Homo sapiens: one gene and its partner. The protein of the gene in region 2 interacts with the protein of the main gene of each other region in a biochemical or structural test. Each region holds a gene or a part of one and is shown on either strand. Other genes may lie near its edges.

What was found. The genes of interacting proteins can lie anywhere in the genome.
Region 1: the proteins of LATS1 (region 2) and MOB3C form a complex in vitro, tested with the Homo sapiens proteins (one study listed by BioGRID).

What each region holds. Positions count from the first base shown.
Region 1 is NC_000001.11:46,613,806-46,620,724, reverse strand, and holds the start of MOB3C (MOB kinase activator 3C), read left to right. Parts: upstream 1-3,913; 5' UTR 3,914-4,014; intron 4,015-5,591; exon of another isoform or gene 5,592-5,754; intron 5,755-6,919. UniProt on the Homo sapiens protein: May regulate the activity of kinases.
Region 2 is NC_000006.12:149,680,092-149,687,116, reverse strand, and holds part of LATS1 (serine/threonine-protein kinase LATS1), read left to right. Parts: intron 1-2,524; coding exon 2,525-4,038; coding exon of another isoform or gene 4,039-4,101; exon of another isoform or gene 4,102-4,203; intron 4,204-5,593; exon of another isoform or gene 5,594-5,656; intron 5,657-6,659; coding exon 6,660-7,025. UniProt on the Homo sapiens protein: Negative regulator of YAP1 in the Hippo signaling pathway that plays a pivotal role in organ size control and tumor suppression by restricting proliferation and promoting apoptosis.

The DNA.
Region 1 (6,919 bases), on a different chromosome or scaffold from region 2:
CCCGGCTGCATGGTTGGACAGCTCTGATGTGCCAAGCGCCCCTTCATATTGTCCTGGGTGTCTGCCCACTGCTCTCCAGGACCCTGGAACAAGCTCAGTCCCTCTTCCACACAAACACCTGCTGGGTGTTTGAAGGCAGTACCCCTGAAACAGACTGACCACAGCCTTCTACTGTTTACAAGTGCTATCACATTTGATTCTCTCAGCTCTTCTGTGGGGCAGATGTTGTTGTTGTTGTCTTTACTTTAGAGAAGGTGAAATAGGCTCAGAGAACAAGTGCCTTGTCCATGGTCACACAGAATTTTAGTGCATGTCCTTGTCAACCTTGTCTTCCCCTGCCATCTTCCCTTGAACCTTGTCTTCTTCAAGTGAAAGGAAGTTTAACCTCAATTCCTCTGACTGCCGTAAGGGTGCCCATGGCATTCTCCTCAATGGGCCAGGATGGAAAATCCAGGACGGATGATCCTGCCTCCTGGGCAGGGAGGGGCAGAAGCTGAAATGGAAACTCTTTCTTGGGAGAGAGTGAGTAGAGGGTGGGCCCTATCAGGCTATAGTAGCTGCCAGACATCTGGTAAGGTGAACTGAGGGTGCAGTATCTTATTCTGGGGGGCAGGGTGGGAGTGGGGGAGCTTTCTTGGCATAGGAAGGGCTGGGGAGTCCCCAGGAAGTGGCCACTCTGTATCAGTAGAGTCACTGGATACAGGCCTACAGCGGGAAGGCACAGGAAGCTGGTTCTGATAAGGTACTTGGAGTGGTACTTCGTATGGCTAGAAGATGCTTTCATGGTAGAGGTGTAGAAACTAAGGCCCAGAGAGGGGCAAGGGCTTTCCCAAAGGCACACAGCAGGTAGACACCACCCTGCTGCCACTCAGAGTTCCCACTGCGAGGGGGGCATGTGCCCAGGCTGAGTAGTGGAAAAGGGCACGTCCTCTCCTAGGTCCTCACTGGCTCACGCCAAGCTTCAGAGATGAGCCTTGTTTGAAGTCTTCTGGAGCCATTTATCATACTCAAGACACAGTGGCAGGGAACAGAGCCCATCTTGTGTAGGTCTCCAGTGCTGGAGGGTTACAGTGTCTCATCAGAGAGGGCAGAACCATCCCAAGGCCACACAGCTAAATTACGGTAAAGCCAGGACACTGTTCTCCAAGGTCTGGGTCTTTTCAGCCCCAGCAGAGCCTCCTAGAAGAACTAGTCTCTCTAACCAAGACTGAGAAGGGCAGGAAGAGGGTACAGGTAGTTGAGAGATCTGGGCTCTCTCGCTTCCCCCAACCCTTCCACCTGCCTCCCATCCCACAGACACCCAGGGACTCTGAGGATGAGCTGGGAATTTCTGATGTTCCTTCAAAATGGATCATCTCTATTTCCCACAGTGTAAGGTTCTGTGCTGTTCACTCTTCACCAGAAAAACTCCTGCCTATCCTGTAAAACCCAGCTCAGAGGTCCAGAAAATGACCCTGCACAAAGCCTCTGCAGAGGAAGTCACATCAAATTCTGAAGAATCTTCCAGACCATGATCTCTGACCACAATGCAATATAATTAGAACTCAACAAGAAAAACATAAACCTCCCATAGGCTGAGAAACTGAAAAACATACTTTGAAATCATTCAAGAGTTAAAGAGGAAATTACACTGAAATTTATGAACTATTTAGAACTGAATGATAAGGAAAACACAAGCAGTTTCCAAATCATTTCCCCTATGAAGTCAGCCCTGACCCCACATGGCTCCTCAGATGGCTCTCCACCCTCTACCCATTTCTACGCCCTAGGAGGCTGACGTCTATGGGCTGCAGCAACAGGTTCCCTTGTTCTTAGCTTCTGGGAGGATTCAGCTAGTGGGGGAAACCTGGCCAGAGATCAGACGGAGGGAGAGAGGGAGGAGAGTGAGGCCTCTTACTTGCCCCCTGTCCTTCCCTGTATGATTGCTGTGAGCTGGGTATGCCCCTCCACCTTAGGCCACAGCAGCGCCCTCCTCATAGCTCCCACTTTCACCATTCCTTCCCCACACTCCTGCAGCCTGGGGTTGACAGCCTCTGCTCTTGTGAGCCCTTTGGTGATACACTGTGTGGTTTCCCTACACCTTGACCATACCTGTAAATAATGTCTTCATTAAACATACCCATTCTGGGTGTTCCATGTGCTTCCTGCAAATACCCCGACTCTTACAAAGTCCGTCAGTCCACAACCACATTCTCACTTCTGGGTGACTGAGCTGTGACCTTGTGTATCTCTGTGTGTTGTCCCCTTTACTGACCTGTCAGCACCTGAGGTCGGCAACCAGGTCAGCTTTATCACCCAGTCCCCTGATCTGATATGAGTGGAGAGTTATACTCAATAAAAGATATTGATTAGGATATCAAATAAATAAAGAAGCATAGTTTAATTTGCTCCATAAGCAAGTGTTTGTTTATAGGGGATTCAGGGCAGAGAGTTAAGAGTCAGACATAAAAATACAGAGAACTTTAGACTGGGGCAAAAATTGGTGCTCAACAAAAGAACATACCCACAGTTCTATGAGCTGGGATTCTTTCTTTACTTTTATTTTAGGTTCAAGGGTACATGTGTAGGTTTGTTATATAAGTAAACTCTGTGTCATGGGGATTTGGTGTACAGATAATTTCATCACCGAGGTAAGCAGCATAGTACCTGATGGGTATTTTTGTCTCATCCTCCCTCCTCCCGCCCTCCACTCCCAAGCAGGCCCCAGTGTCTGCTGTTCCCCTCCTAGTATCTATGTATTCTCATTGTTTAGCTCCTACTTGTAAGTGAGAATATGCAGTATTTGGTTTTCTATTCCTGTGTTAGTCTGCTTAGGATAATGGCCTCCAGCTCCAGCCCATGTTGCTGCAAAGGATATGATCTGGGTTAAGGATCTAGCGTGTTCTCATGTCATCCAGCAACAGAAGGTCCAGACACAAGGGAGGTCCAGTGTGCCATGGTAAATGCCCACCTCTGGCCTCCAGCTCTCCCCTACCCGCATCTACTCACCTCCCACCCCTCCAGAGTGGCTTCTATGGCTAAGCTCTCTGCTTTGGGCTTCCTACCCTAGAAAGCCTCCAATCTTCCCTCCCATCCCAGACAGAGCAGCCAACTGGTCCCTGGGCCTGGGGGCCACGGTGTGCATTGAATGCTGGTGGGATATCTGTCTGTCCTCGAAGGAACCCAGGTGGTAGGGAGAGCAGATCAGATCTTGAGTGGTTTGGATTTGTCAGAAGGAAGGAGGGAGAGAAGGTATTCTAAAATGGAACAGCTGGGATAAGGGTCTGGAGATAAGAAATGGGGTGACTCTGGGTAAGGAGCAAGGAGAATCAGCCCAACCTGAGCCAGGCCCCCTCCCTGGTGAGGAGATGAAGTTTGTGATTTGAGCGCTCTTCTGGGGCTTGTCCCTCAGGGGTGAAGGACTCAGCTCATGATTCCCAAGGCGTTCATTTATTCCTTCACTCACCCATTCATTCATTCATCAAGTGGGTTTTGAGTTCCTGCTATGTGCCAGGAGCTGAGGATATGGGAGTGGATAGGACGGTCCCGATCCCTTATTGGGTCCCGGGACAAGTGTGACGCAGACGATTCTAGGAGGGCAAAGAAACCACCCTTATCTAGCAGCTCTTGTTTCTGCTCCAGAAGAAGCCGAGCGTTTTCCCATTTTACTGTCTGGGAACTTGAGGCTGCCTCCTTGGTGGAGGTCCAAGGAAGCACCGAGAGGGCGGGCAGCTCAGTTAGTCCTTTGTCCAAGGGGAAGCTGGGAGCCCCATATGGACTTTCCGGGAAGGTGGGGGCGAGTGCGTCTGTGTACTGGAGTGGAGGGGAGTCCCCTTTCTCCGCCCCTCCCCGCCCCGTGGCCGCGGCGTGGCGGGGCCGGGGCGGAGCTGGCGTCGCCCGGGGCAGGAGGGCAGCCGCGGCCGGCAGGACAGGCAGACGGACAGGCTGACAGGAGAGAGAACAGGCACTGCGGGACCTGCAGGAGAAAGGCGATCCTGTGGCTGGGAATGTGACCCCACGGCCAGAAGAGGACCCGTGAGTGTGCGCCGTGCCCCTGCGGCCTCGCCGCGCACCCCGCCCGCCTGGCTTCCACTTTCATTTCTTCGGCCGTCCTGGCGTGGCACAGTCCGGAGGAGAGTCCCGCCCGAAGGCAGGCTGGCCGCTGTCCTGAGGCTGGCGTCCGAGGCTCAGAGCTTCGAAAGTTGCGGGGGGGATTGTCGGGGTGGGGGAGTACGGGGCAGAGGGGAGGGGTTGGGGGGCGTGTTTTCGGGGAGCGGAAATGTCAGGCGGGCTCCTCTGGGTCCTACGACCTTCCTGGCCCTGGGAGCTGGTTTGAGGTTGCAGGGAAGCCGGGGGTGGGCGTGGGTGGCTGCGCGCCGCGAGGAGAGCGTGGAGTCTTCGCCTCTACTTTTTCTCTTCGACCTCTGTCCTAGAGAGAGTCCCAGGATGGATTCTGGGTTCAAACTGGGGCCATCCTCTGGCCCAGATCCTGGGCCAGGCCCAAGGAGTGGTAGATGTAGCCTAGCAGGGGGCTAAATATCAGAAACAGGTAGGGTCAGCCTGCTGTCTTCATTTGAGAAGCCCAGATCCGCACCCAGGGAACGAGCAAGGCACTGCCACTCCAGGAGTGAAAGGATAGCCATCACTGGGAAATGGGGGCTAGGACGGGGAACGGCAGTGGTTCAGGGAGAGACAGAGGTTCTGTGACAGATAGAAACTCAGTGAGGGCATGGGGGTGGGGAGTGAAGGGAGTTAACCCTGTGGCTAGAAGAGCACCTGCCCTGCACCCACCCCCTGAGCTTACATTTTCCTGGAAAGAGACCCAGGCCTTGAAGTTCCACAGGAGTAAGGTGGAACTCTAGCTCACTGGTCAGGACACCCCAGTTGCTGTGCGGAGTCAGTGTGTTGGGGACAGGAAGCAGGTTGGGCTGTTTGGTGGAGAAGATGCTTCCACTGTCCCTCCACTCCCCTCCTCTTCTCTGTCTCCACCAGACCATTGATGAGCCAGTGCAGGAAAATGGTCTTTTACTCTTGGTCATGAGCTGAGCCCCACCTTATCCCAGTTCCCAGTTCTGCTTGTAACTTGCTATGTGGACACAGGCTCCTCAAGTCCTCTTTTTAGGCCTCAGTTTCCTCATCTGGGCCTCAGTTTCCCCATCTGTACAAGTGAGTTGGGCCAGCTGATCTATCAGGGCTATTTTAACTCTAAGATTCTAGTCTAAGCTTTCCTTAAAGCCTGAACACTGACTTTGTGCCAGGCCTTGTCCTAAGCTGGGGGTGGGTTGGGGATGGAGTGGAGACTGCAATGACCAAAAGCAGCCTCTACCCAAGGAGAAGGAGATCTGAGTTCAGGAGAGGAGGCTGTGGGAGGAGGTAGCAGCCAATCTGAGGATGTGTGGTCAGGCAGGTGGAGGGATAAGAAAACATGCAGAGGCAAAAGAGTGGGGGCGTGTTCAGGAATCAGGAAGAAGCCCAGGGTGGTTGGTGTGGGGAGGTGGGAAGTGGGGCAGGAAAGGTAGGACAAGGTGCTGAATGCCAGGGTGGGGGCCTATTTCTAACTGTCATAAAGGGGGCCATGCAATGTGGGGAGCCCAGGAGCCCCGCCTAATTGCAGTGTGAGGGATTTTGGAAGCACTTGCCCCAAGCAGAGTTTAAAATGGAGATGGCAAATGAAGCGCAGAAATCTCTTTGCTCTGGAAACTGGGGTCCCACCCTGGGGACTTCTTTGGGTGAGAAGTCGAAGAGTCGGGATGGATGAGATGACCTTTCACATCTGTGAGTTTTTTTCAAGAGAACAAGTTCCTGCTGAATGGCCTGTTTCTACTCTCCAAGCTGCTCTCATTTTACCAGACTGCCCCCATCCTGGCCTGCCTTTGTGGGTTCAAGGAAGGACCTTTGTCTCAAACAGCTCCCCAGCTAGTTTGACTTCTTGCCAGAAGTAATACCCCTCCCCGAAATATGTGCCATCCCTTTGCTTTTACCCAGGTGTCACCTGGTTCCCACCCTCCCTTCCCCAATCCTGTCCCAGGGTTACCAGAGATGTGAGAAAGGACAGTGCTCCAGCGTCAGAGGTCAAGCCCAGGCTTTGGCCATAAGCAAGCCTCAGGGTAGGGCTAAAGGCTAGAGTCAGGGCTCACACTTGCCAGAGCCCAGGTCAGAGGTCAGCCAGGAACCAGAATGCAATTCTTAGCTTATACTCAGCCTTAGTGCTCAGTCTAGGGGCAGGGGCAGTGTGCTTAGTGGGTGGCTAAATTCTAGTTTTGGTAGGTACATGGGTCTGCATTTCCCAGTAGCTCACACACTCACAGTTGAGATGAGATGACTCAGGTCTTAGAAACCTAGCTATAGCAGAGTGACCCAGGACCTGGATGGGCTAAATCCATGGTGATACAGGGGTCACCCAGTAAGCCAGTGGTAGAGCTGGGACTAGAACCCAGGACTCCTGCCTCTGAGCCTAGGGCCCTGATCACTGTCTCCCAAAATTTGTTCTGAATCTGGGATCCTTAAATTCTAGGAGGCAAAGTAAATTTGCCTGAGCTCTAGATGGGCCCTCCTGGGTGCATCTGACTATACTCTTCTACCTCCCAGTGCCAGGCACATAGTAGTTGCTAGAGGAATGTCTACTGAGTGTCAGGTGCAACGGGAGGAGCCAGTGGCTTGTTCAGATTTGGGGCTGGAGGAGGCTGGCTTGAGGGGAAGGATCTCCAGCTGTTGTCAGAGGAAGCGACGCCCTCATTGGCCTGCCGCCCTCCCCCTCCTCCAGTGCTTGCAGCCACACTCAGAAGCCGCCCAGCTGGCAGCGGGAGGGCCCTTTCCTCTTTCAGGGTGAAAAAAAAGGAAAGGACATTTTTGGTAGAAAAGTTCCCTGCTGCTCCCTGGGAATCCCCGGTGGCCGGATGGACTACGGGATATCCCAGAGGAAGCCGAAAGCCACCCCCGA
Region 2 (7,025 bases):
TCTGTCTCAAAAAAAAAAAAATAAAAATCTTGGAGATCTTGGTGAGGTTGCTACTTAATAAAGTTTAAAAACTTTTGCAGTAGGAGTAAACAGAAGAAGTAGTTGTGGTCTGGGAGTATAAGCGTATAAACCTTAAAGTAGTTATTCTGAAACAAGAGCAGATATGAGTAATACCAAAGTTTGAAATACAATCATGAGAATGATACTTGATGTGGAGTGGAAGAGGGGACGTCAAGAAGCTGAGATATGAGGGCAATAGATGGTTTATCCTCGTGGTTATTGAGGTTACAGGATGAAGGCAGGGCTTAGGGTAGACTGAATGCTGAAGCTGTGGCTGAATGAAATAGAGCAAATAGGCAGGAGCTCATTAGGTGAGAGGAATTAGTGTGGCCTCCCACATAGCATGAAGTTCAAAAGAGCTGGCTTTTTAAAAGGAATAATATCAACCTGTAAGAACAAATGTTAGAACCCCATCTTTAGGCCAGGTTATTTTTAAAGGAAACCTTAATTTCAAAGGGCTGAAAGGAAAGTAGTATCAGCAGAAGAAAACCAGCTTCAAGGAGGTGGCAGGAAAGCTTGGAGGAGAGGTTACTGATAAGGCACATTTGCTGGCTGTGGAGCCGAGTGGATCCGGAGGGCATGGTGGAAAGGTTCGGGAAGTGGAAGAACATGGAGAGCTCTGTGGGAGGCGCAGAACAACAGGGGTGACTGTATACTCTAAAAGCTGAATGAGTGACATGGTGTATTTGGCCTCAGCTGGCCTCTGAGGAAAGTGAGAAAGAGCCTGATGGCCAGAGGACTTGTCCAGTTTATCCGGAATGATAATGTTCCCCAAACATTATTTACTCACTTGCTTTTCGTCTGGCTCCTGCTTCGAGAATGTAGACCCAAAATGCTGTCCAGCCTAGATGAAAGGGAGTGTTAAACTGAACATTATGAACATTTACCACATTTTACCACTTTTTTTCTCAGATGTATTGTTAGATATATTTTTGCCCAGGATGATGTTGACCTTTCAAATTTATTAGTATTCTTTTTTGTTTTGTTTTTAATGGTAATGAGTGTTTGTATTTAGATCTCTACTTTTGTCATGCCTGGGAAGACATTCGCAAGAGGTACCCCAATACTATTGAATGGTCTTTTGTTTTTTTCTAGTGCTTACATGATTTCATCTTTAATATTTAAACCTTTAGTCTTTCTAGAATGTATATATGTATTGTCTTTATACCAGTGTATCTTGTATATTTTTCCTAAGTGGCTGGACTATTCTATTTTAAATACTTCTCTTTTTTTGGTATTGTATTTTTTTTTTTGCTTGTTTTATTGATTTGGAAATTCCGTTAAAGACAGTTTCTGTAAAATCTATACTTTATTTAATATTCAGCTAATTATAGCCTACTATCTTTTTCTGTTTTAAAAACCATATTAAAAGGCCAGGTGCAGTGGCTCACACCTGTAATCCCAGCACTTTGGAAGGCTTAGGAGGGCAGATCACTTGAGGTCGGGAGTTTAAGACCAGCCTCGCTAACATGGCGAAACCCCGTCTCTACTAAAAATACAAAAGTTAGCTGGGCGTGGTGGCGTGCGCCTGTAGTCCCAGCTACTCAGGAGGCTGAGGAAGGAGAATTACTTGAACCCGGGAGACGGAGGTTGCAGTGAGTCTGTGCCACTGCACTCCAGCCTGGGTGACAGAGTGAGACTTTGTCTCAATTTAAAAATATAGATATATATTAAAATATATTTAAAATCAGTAGAGCTATGAAAATTACAAATAGATACGCCCTTTGGCCTAATAATGCTACCTCTAATAATTTATCTACAAATATACATGCATATATATGAAATTATATCTCTTCAAAAATATATATATATTTTTTTTGAGATGGAGTCTTGCACTGTCACCCAGGCTGGAGTGCAGTGGCACGATCTCAGTTCACTGCAGCGTTGGCCTTCTTGGTTCATGCAATTCTCCTGCCTCAGCCTCCCGAGTGGCTGGGACTACAGGTGCACACCACCACGCCTGGCTAATTTTTTTGTATTTTTAGTAGAAATGGAGTTTCACCATGTTGGCCAGGCTGGTCTCGAACTCCTGGCCTCAAGTGATCTGCCTACCTCAGCCTCCCAAAGTGCTGGGATTACAGGCGTGAGCCACCACGCCTGGTCAAAAATAAATAAAATTCTAAAAGGTAAAAGGAAACCACTTAGTGAAATTTTATTTTTATAACTCTTTTTTTTCTTTTTTTGCTAAATTGAGCCAAATAACATGTATTATTACCTCACATATCATTTTTTTGTAGTGAGAATACTTCAAATTTACTCTCGGCAATTTTCAGGAGTACAATACGTTGTTATTAACTACAGTCACCATTTTGTACAAGAGATCACTTGAACTTTTTTATATTTTTATAATTCTTGAAAGAGAATTGAGTATCATTTGTAATATCAGAATTGCAAGCTAAGGTTTTCAAAAATTAGAGGTTAAAAACATGATTCTTTTTTCTCTTTATCTCTCTTATAACCATAGGGAATGTGCAGCAATCAGTTAACCGCAAACAGAGCTGGAAAGGTTCTAAAGAATCCTTAGTTCCTCAGAGGCATGGCCCGCCACTAGGAGAAAGTGTGGCCTATCATTCTGAGAGTCCCAACTCACAGACAGATGTAGGAAGACCTTTGTCTGGATCTGGTATATCAGCATTTGTTCAAGCTCACCCTAGCAACGGACAGAGAGTGAACCCCCCACCACCACCTCAAGTAAGGAGTGTTACTCCTCCACCACCTCCAAGAGGCCAGACTCCCCCTCCAAGAGGTACAACTCCACCTCCCCCTTCATGGGAACCAAACTCTCAAACAAAGCGCTATTCTGGAAACATGGAATACGTAATCTCCCGAATCTCTCCTGTCCCACCTGGGGCATGGCAAGAGGGCTATCCTCCACCACCTCTCAACACTTCCCCCATGAATCCTCCTAATCAAGGACAGAGAGGCATTAGTTCTGTTCCTGTTGGCAGACAACCAATCATCATGCAGAGTTCTAGCAAATTTAACTTTCCATCAGGGAGACCTGGAATGCAGAATGGTACTGGACAAACTGATTTCATGATACACCAAAATGTTGTCCCTGCTGGCACTGTGAATCGGCAGCCACCACCTCCATATCCTCTGACAGCAGCTAATGGACAAAGCCCTTCTGCTTTACAAACAGGGGGATCTGCTGCTCCTTCGTCATATACAAATGGAAGTATTCCTCAGTCTATGATGGTGCCAAACAGAAATAGTCATAACATGGAACTATATAACATTAGTGTACCTGGACTGCAAACAAATTGGCCTCAGTCATCTTCTGCTCCAGCCCAGTCATCCCCGAGCAGTGGGCATGAAATCCCTACATGGCAACCTAACATACCAGTGAGGTCAAATTCTTTTAATAACCCATTAGGAAATAGAGCAAGTCACTCTGCTAATTCTCAGCCTTCTGCTACAACAGTCACTGCAATTACACCAGCTCCTATTCAACAGCCTGTGAAAAGTATGCGTGTATTAAAACCAGAGCTACAGACTGCTTTAGCACCTACACACCCTTCTTGGATACCACAGCCAATTCAAACTGTTCAACCCAGTCCTTTTCCTGAGGGAACCGCTTCAAATGTGACTGTGATGCCACCTGTTGCTGAAGCTCCAAACTATCAAGGACCACCACCACCCTACCCAAAACATCTGCTGCACCAAAACCCATCTGTTCCTCCATACGAGTCAATCAGTAAGCCTAGCAAAGAGGATCAGCCAAGCTTGCCCAAGGAAGATGAGAGTGAAAAGAGTTATGAAAATGTTGATAGTGGGGATAAAGAAAAGAAACAGATTACAACTTCACCTATTACTGTTAGGAAAAACAAGAAAGATGAAGAGCGAAGGGAATCTCGTATTCAAAGTTATTCTCCTCAAGCATTTAAATTCTTTATGGAGCAACATGTAGAAAATGTACTCAAATCTCATCAGCAGCGTCTACATCGTAAAAAACAATTAGAGAATGAAATGATGCGGGTAAAACCTTTTAAAATGTCCATTTTTATACTTAATCATCTGTTTGCTTGGTGTTTATTTTAAAATATTGTGTCCAGTATTTTTCTTTCTTTTTATAGCTAAATAAAATATATTATCAGTTATGGAATTTAAAAGTGAATAAATATTAAAGTACTTTTGATTGTAGCATTTTATTTTAGTATTTCAATATTTATTCAGAATTTCCTATAATAAAATCTCGTGTAAATTAAGAAAAATATAATTTGCGGTATACAGTTTAGGTGTACATAATACCTTTATATGAAAATTGGAGGAAGGGTTGTCTTCTAGGCTTCATACAATATCTTACAACATTTAAAAATAAACTAGAAATATGTGGGTCTCAGGCTGGGGCATGGGGGCTCACGCCTGTAATCAAAGCACTTTGGAAGGCTGAGGCAGGCAGATCATGAGGTCAGGAGATCGAGACCATCCTGCCTAACACAGTGAAACCCCGTCTCTACTAAAAATACCAAAAAAAATTAGCTGGGCATGGTGGCGGGCGCCTGTAGTCCCAGCTACTTGGAAGGCTGAGGCAGGAGAATGGCGTGAACCCCGGAGGCGGAGGTTGCAGTGAGCCGAGATCGCGCCACTGCACTCCAGTGTGGGCGACAGTGAGACTCCGTCTCAAAAAAAAAAAAAAAAGAAAAAAGAAATACGTGGGTCTCATCTCTTGATATACTTATAAAACATTTACTTTTAGAAAATTTGGAGTTTATAGGTTTATTCATCACATATATCTTATTAAAAAGTGTAAAGAAGTTTCCTTCAGTTATATCTCCCTTCTCATTTCATTTTTATAATATACTGGAGAAAAATGTGCTAAAATTATTTAGTGAAACTATACTAAAAGGGAGATCAGAGTAAGTAAACACACTTTAATCTGTGTTGTCATTCCACATAGATCTCTAGATATTAAGGTAGTACGATCATCATTTTTTTTTTTTTTTGAGACGACATCTCACTCTGTCGCCAGGCTGGAGTGCAGTGGCGCCATCTCAGCTCACTGCAACCTCCGCCTCCCGGGTTCAAGCAGTTCTCCTGCCTCAGCCTCCCCACTAGCTGGGACTACAAGCGCCCGTCAGCACGCTGAGCTAATTTTTTATTTTTAGTAGAGGCGGGGTTTCACCATGTTGGCCAGGCCGGTCTTGATCTCTTGACGCCATGACCCACCCGCGTCTGCCTCCCAAAGCACTGGGATTACAGGCATGAGCCACTGTGCCTGGCCATTATTGTTTTTATCATATGCTTAGAGTTCAAAGATTTGACTCCTAATCTTACATCTGTCACTCACAATCCAAGAGGCTTAACCTTGTGATTAAACACCTTTATATACTTGAACCATTCTTTTAAAATGATTTTAATAAATCTGATTTTACAGTATTGTTATTTCTATTTTATATTTTATTAAATGAGAAATACCATAATAATTTCTATGACTTATCCATATTTTAATTCTTAGGATTTCTTACTAAAGTCTGCCTATGTGTATTTTCTTAGTTTATTTTTCCTTTTTCCTCTTCACTTTCACTAATAGCTGATTTAAACTTTTATGGTGTTGGAAGCTTTGCTGACTTCTGTAGTCTCCATTACTGTGTAGGCAAGTAAGATTTTAAGAGAAACAGTTCTGAACTAAGTCTGGCATGCCATCCTTCTTAAAAGATTTTGCATGCAAATGTGAATCCTAACAGAAGCATGTGGTTGTTCTATTTTAGTCTTGTATTTCTAGAATTAGACCCCACTTTTCCAACTGGATTTCTTTTCTATTTAAACCCTTTAATTAATTCTTTATTAATTAGCCAAAATGTTTCTCCCTTCTAAATCCAGGCATTCCATATCTATAATACTTAGAAGTTAGTTTTTGTTTTTAATCTATTTTTTGATATTTTCATGAGTCACACTGAAGTATTCCTAAGTATCCAAAGGATATCTTGTAAACAACCAGGTTGTTCTTTTCGAAGTAGGAGAAACCCTTTGCAATTTGTGTTAGTGGTAGACTGTGAGTCGCACCTTTACTCTGATGCCCTGAAAAATAGAAAAGGAAAGATTATTAATGACTGTTGTATATTTATTGAGAATAGGGAAAGGATTGGTGGGTTAGAAAAGGCATTGTTTTGTTGTTCTTTGGTACATTAATTTTTTAGAATAAATGAGCCTGGAGTGGAAGAATTTTTTTTCATGAAAGACAAAATAGGAAGAATATTTGAGGCCTAGGCATTCCACCAAGAGAAGCATATACAGAGAGATAAATGAATATGCATGTTAACATGTTAACAGATGTTTGTTGCACATTGAGAACCTTTTTTTTTTTTTTTTTCGGAGTGCATTAGAGAAGAGTAGAAAGCTTACTCATCTGGTACCCTCTTCTTGCACTCCACAGCTGAATTTGCATAGGTACTCACTTTGAATATCCTTTTAACTACCCCTTAGGCTGCACTTTTGATCATTAATTTCCTTTGAAATGTTTTCTAGATTTCTAACATGCTTTATTAAAAATTATGCATTTAACCTTTAAATATATGCCTGAATTTTTCCCAAGCTATTTCTTAATATTCAATATTGAAGAAGATAATTCTTATTTAACATCTAGTTTATTTGCCTAGGTTGGATTATCTCAAGATGCCCAGGATCAAATGAGAAAGATGCTTTGCCAAAAAGAATCTAATTACATCCGTCTTAAAAGGGCTAAAATGGACAAGTCTATGTTTGTGAAGATAAAGACACTAGGAATAGGAGCATTTGGTGAAGTCTGTCTAGCAAGAAAAGTAGATACTAAGGCTTTGTATGCAACAAAAACTCTTCGAAAGAAAGATGTTCTTCTTCGAAATCAAGTCGCTCATGTTAAGGCTGAGAGAGATATCCTGGCTGAAGCTGACAATGAATGGGTAGTTCGTCTATATTATTCATTCCAAGATAAGGACAATTTATACTTTGTAATGGACTACATTCCTGGGGGTGATATGATGAGC